2 separate regions of the Homo sapiens genome follow, and region 1 is linked to region 2. A link means that fine-mapping ties the variant in region 2 to the expression of a gene that starts in the linked region. Tissue or cell type: cultured neurons. Region 2 holds a variant in brackets; the other region holds the start of a gene. All regions are shown on one strand. Distances are between the middles of the regions.

The links.
Region 1: RFWD3 starts here. The variant in region 2 is fine-mapped to the expression of RFWD3 in cultured neurons (Aygun 2021, PIP 0.95).

Annotation. Positions count from the first base shown.
Region 1 is chr16:74,665,086-74,667,994 of GRCh38, forward strand. RFWD3 (ring finger and WD repeat domain 3) reads right to left here and starts at 1,792. Exons shown (of 13, transcript NM_018124.4): 1 at 1,701-1,792. It also overlaps the pseudogene TMPOP2. RefSeq lists a silencer at 1,322-1,471.
Region 2 is chr16:74,615,095-74,618,003 of GRCh38, forward strand. No RefSeq gene overlaps it. Among named protein-coding and RNA genes, the nearest start is that of GLG1, 9.4 kb to the left of the region's middle. The variant T/TA (reference allele first, on the strand shown) is at 1,511.

The DNA of each region.
Region 1 (2,909 bases), 50 kb after region 2:
GGCCACAACAGGCAGGACGAAAGCCCCTCAATTAAAGGTTGAGAAGAGGTGGGCGGGGGAAGTGTTCAAATCTTTGCTCTGGCCGGTGCAGAGGGTCACGCCTGTGATCCCTGGACACTGAAATGCCCAGGCGGATGGATCACTTACGCTCTGGTGTTCCAGACCAGCTTGGGCAACACAGTGAAATTCCCATCTCTACCAAAAAAGAAAAATAGAACAGGTCAGGCGCGGTGGCTCACACCTGTAATCCCAGCACTTTGGGAAGCCGAGGGCAGACCACTTGAGGTCGGAGTCCCAGAATGGCCAATATGGTGAAACCCCGTCTCCACTAAAAATACAAAAACTACCCGGGTGTGGTGGCGCATGCCTGTAATCCCAGCTACTTGGGAGGCTGAGGCAGGAGAATCGCTTGAACCCGGGAGGCAGAGGTTGCAGTGAGCCGAGATCGCACCACTGCACTCCAGCAGGGGCAACAAAGCGAGACTCTATCTCAAAAAAAGAAAGAAAAAAGAAAAATAAAACAATGAGCCGGGCGTGGTGGCGCGCACCTGTGGTCCCAGCTATTGCGGGAAGCCGAGGTGGGAGGATCCCTGGGGCCCGGGAGTTCGAGACTGCAGTGAGCTCTTCCAGCCTGGGTGCAACAGGGAGACTTTTCTTTCTTTCTTTCTTTCTTTTTTTGAGATGGAGTTTCACTCTTGTTGCCCAGGCTGGAGTGCAATGGCGTGATCTCAGCTCACTGCAACCTCGGCCTCCCGGGTTCAAGCGATTCTCCTGCCTCAGCCTCCCGAGTAGCTGGGAAATGGGGTTTCTCCATGTTGGTCAGGCTGGTCTCGAACTCCTGGCCTCAGGTGATCCGACTGCCTCGGCCTCCCAAAGTGCTGGGATTACAGGCCTGAGCCACCGCTTTTCTCTTTATAACACCTTTTTCTCTTTATAACAGGAAAAAGGGAGGAAGAGAGAGGGAGAGGGAGAGGCGGAGGGGGAAGAGGAGGGAGAGGGAGACGGGAGGGGAAGGGAGAGAGGGAAAGAAGGAAATTAAATCCCTGTTCTTTTACTACATGGGGAAAGAAAGACATAGATAGATTAGATAGACAGATTAGATAGATAGATAGATAGATAGATAGATAGATAGATAGATTGATTAGATACATAGATATTAAATCCCTGTTCTTTTACTACATGGGGAAACTTTGGGCGGGTTTCCTAAACTCGGCTCAACTTGTTCTCCTGTAAAACAGGGATAATACAAGTCTTTACTCCACAGTTTCCGTGATGAAATTAAAAATGAAGTTCTTCCATCAACTTTAAAGTGATGAAGTAATCGGCGCTCAGAGCGGGCGCAGGCAACGCCGCTGAGGAGCCCGAGGCTAGGCTCTCGGGGGAAGGGCCGGGCGACCTCCCACCCCGGCCAGGGCAGGCCCCGCAGCAGCGAACTCGGCTCCTTCAGTGATCGCCCCGAGCTCTCGCCTGCCCAGCCCCCACGCCCAGCAACCCAGATACGCGCGGGGGTTCGGGCTCCTTAGCCCCGACCACTGGCGCCGCCCCGAGGGCCCGAATCCCCTCAGGCCGCCGGGTTCCAAGCCCGCGTGCAGCCCACCTCGTGGGGTGTCTCCTGAATCCCAATCCAGGAATCAGGCGTGGGGAGGTTTATCCCGAAGCTAGAGGCCCAAGGCCTGAGGAGAAGCAACACCCCTCCTCACCTGAAACCAGCAGGCCGCGGCCGGGCTCGCGAGCCCGCCGAAGACTCGGTAGTTACCTCGGCCGCACTCCGAATGCACCTACGCCAACTGCCACTTCCGGAGCCGCTCAAGCTCCCGCCAGAGCCGCCGGCAGGCATGCTCCTATTGGACAGAAGCCCTACGCTGTGGCCAATACCCACTCTTCTTCTTCAATGGGTCCCCCGATAGCTGAAGCAGCGGTGCTCTCATTGGCTGGTAGTTCGTCCTGACGAGGCGGGACCGCGCTTGAGGAAGCCTCCTACAATTGGCAGGAATCTACGTCCGTCACCTTGCACCCGCCCCGGAAAAAATGGGAGGTTTTTTTGTTTTTTTTTTGTTTGGTTTTTTTTTTTTTTTTTAGCGCGTTTTATTTGAACTTTCTGGCGGGAGAAAGTTATATGATTTCTCGGTCCATTTTGGAATGGGGATGATGATATTAAAACTGACTCCTGCTGCTTATCCCTAACGCTTTAGTGAAGGAGTTATCTGTATCCAAAGGATAGCAGCTAATCGAATAATTTCAAAATATTTCAATATTTTGAATTTCGGAGCCTGTAAAGAGGCGTAGGACAGTCCAGTTCATATGTATCCTCTCATGGGGTTGAAGAGCTCACGCAAAATACTTTGCCTACATAATCTCTTCAATCTCAAACCGCTGCAAGGGATCTGAGCTACTGAACAGTCTCAAATCACTTGTTAGGGCCGCCGCTCGCCGCCAGCGCCAAAAGAAAGGGGCCCCCGGAATTCTCCAGCTACGTACGAGGAGCGCGAGCCCACAGCCGTCTCGGCTCCGAGCCCGCCGCCGGCAGGAAAGCCACAAAGAAAACTGATAAACCCAGACAAGATGATAAAGACGATCTAGATGTAACAGAACTCACTAATGAAGATCCTTTGGATCAGCTTGTGAAATACGGAGTGAATTGTGGTCCTATTGTGGGAACAACCAGGAAGCTGTATGAGAAATAGCTTTTGAAACTGAGGGAGCAAGGAACAGAATCAAGATCGTCTCCTTCAGCAACAATTTCTTCTTCAGCAGAAAATACAAGGCAGAATGGAAGTAATGATTCTGACAGATATGGTGAAAATGAAGAAGACTCTAAATTGGGCTCAAGTTTGAGAAGAGAGAACCGCTAAACAGGGGAGTAAAGACTCCAGTAACCCTCAAGCAAAGAAGAGTTGAGCACAAGGAGA
Region 2 (2,909 bases):
ATGAGGTGGCTGAGAGAGCCATGTGACCATGATGCTGGTCCAACACTGTGTGAAGTACAGAGGGAGGGAAGGAAGGACGGGAGGATTCGGTGGAAACATCTAAGACTCAACTTAAACTGAAATTCATTTCTAAGAAAGTCAGCCAAGGTCCGGCACGGTGGCTGACGCCTGTAATCCCAGCACTTTGGGAGGCCAAGGCAGGCAGATCACCTGAGGTCGAGAGTTCGAGACCAGCCTGACCAACATGGAGAAACCCCGTCTCTACTAAAAACACACAAAAAATTATCCGGGCATGGTGGTGCATACCTGTATTCCCAGCTACTCGGGAGGCTGAGGCAGGAGAATCACTTGAACCCAGAAGGCGGAGGTTGCAGTGAGCCAAGATCTCCAGCCTGGGCAATAAGACCAAAACTCCGTCTCCAAAAAAAAAAAAAAAAAAAGAAAGTTGGCCAAGGCCATAGGATAGTCCTCATGCAAAAGTTACCTGTCACTGAGTCTTCCAGAAATGGGCCTGCGTCAGTAGCCCTATCACTCTTAGTCAAGACTAGGAGGATCCTTGGGATGAATGCAGTTGTAGATTTCAGTGCTCAGCAGATCAAACAGAGGTCAATCATGTTCCCCACAGCTGGAGATCTGAGAGGCTCATTTTCAAGGTCACCACATCTGAGTAACTTCTTTAACTAGAGAATCTCTTTCATATAAAAGGCATAGCATGGCTGGGCGTGGTGGCTCACGCCTGTAATCCCAGCACTTTGGGAGGCCAAGGCGAGCAGATCACCTGAGGTCAGGAGGTGAAGACTGGCCTGGCTGACATGGTAAAGCCCAGTCTCTACTAAAAATACAAAAATTAGCCGGGTGCAGTGGCTCATGCCTGTAATTCCAGCACTTTGGGAGGCTAAGCGGGGCAGATCATGAGGTCAGGAAATCGAGACCATCCTGGCTAACATGGTGAAACCCTGTCTCTACTAAAAATACAAAAATTAGCTGGGCGTGGTGGCAGGCGCCTGTAATCCCAGCTAATTGGGAGGCTGAGGTACAAGAATCGCTTGAACCCAGGAGTCGGAGGTTGCAGTGAGCCAAGATCGCGCCACTGCACTCCAGCCTGGCAGGAGTGAGACTCCATCTAAAAAAAAAAACAAAAAAAATTAGCCAGGTGCGATGGCATGCGCCTGTAATCCCAGCTACTCGGGAGGCTGAGGCAGAAGAATCACTTGAACCTGGGAGGCAGAGGTTGCAGTGAGCCAAGATCATGCCACTGCACTCCAGCCTGGGTGACAAAGTGAGACTCAGTCTCAGGGAAGAAAAAGAAATTGTTTAGACTACTAAGCTAGGACATTGGTGACTTCATATTGACAAGACTTAAGGGATTAAAAATGAAATAACAGGCCAGGCGTGGTGGCTCATGCCTGTAATTCCAGCACTTTGGGAGGCTGAGGCAGTGGATCACTTGAGGCCAGGAATTTGAGACCACCCTGGCCAACATGGCGAAACCCCGTCCCTACTAAAAATA[T/TA]AAAAAAATTAGCTGGGCATGGTGGTGTATACCTGTAGTCACAGCTACTTGGGAGGCTGAAGTGGGAGGATCACTTGAGCCTGGGAGGCAGAGGTTACAGCAAGCCGAGATTACACCACTGCACTCCAGCCTGGGTGACAGAGTGAGACCCCATTTCAATTAAAAAAAAAAAAAAAGAGTAACAAGTAACATATTTCTAGACACCCCCACATTATCCAGCTAAGAGACCTGAACTTGTCTGTCACAGCAACCTCAGTGACTGTCTAGACGAGAATCTAAGACTCCTGGAGAAGAAAAACTCACCCAGCATTCTGATCTGTAGACAGTAGAGACCGGACTGTAGTTTGAATATTACTTCCTTTATGGCAATTTGCCAGTTTGCAGGAATATCATGTCTTTTGGAGAGGGTCTCAATCAGAGAAACAAATGTTAGCATTTGATATTTCGTTTACTTCCTTGACTCAAGGGCAAGTGACTCCTGTGAGCTGAGGGGGTAGCATACTGTTTGCCTAGTGAAATACCATCTCTCTATCTCAAGTCAGGACATCATCTTCAAGAGAGGAACTGGGGTCATCGCTAACTCTGGAGCTTCCACTGGGGTACAAGTGAGGTGTCAGAACTTCACTGAGCTTAGATTCCGTGGCAATTTCCCATCTTCCCCCCTACCCTGTCACCCTTTCTCATGTTAGGCCCTCATTGTTTCCCATATGTTCCTGCACAATCTAACCAGCAATTTTTTGTACCAGGCTTATGAGAAAGGAGGAAGCCACATCATCACTCAACACCCCCTCCATAGCTCAAGCCTGGGAATTCCCCTGGACCCTCCTGGAGGCACTCTTTTTAACTCTGGTGACATTTCTCTTAAATGGGAGGGTCTACAGGCATTGGAGTTTGAAGGCAGAGCATAACCATTTATCCAGGGCAGGCATCCCCTTCTTTATTCCAGGAAATAAGTGGCCTGCCAACTTCCCACTTACAACTTTCATTAACCAGCAGCTTATCCAACTGTTGGCAGCTCACACAGAGCTGGCTTAGGTAACAAAAGTGCCAGTTTTTTGTTTTTGTTTTCTTTTTTTGAGACAGTCTTGCTCTGTTGCCCAGGCTGGAGGGCAGTGGTACAGTCTAGGGTCACTGCAACCTCTGCCTCCCAGGTTCAAGCAATTCTCCTGCCTCAGCCTCCCAAGTAGCTGGGATTACAGGTGCCTGCCACCACGCCTGGCTAATTTTTTGTATTTTTAGTAGAGACGAGGTTTCACCATGTTGGCCGCGCTGGTTTTGAACTCCTGACCTCGTGATCCACCTGCCTTGACCTCCCAAAGTGCTGGGATTACAGACGTGAGCCATCGTGCCCGGCCATTTTTTTTTTTTTTTTAACCCAAGCATCTGTTCAGTGATGTCC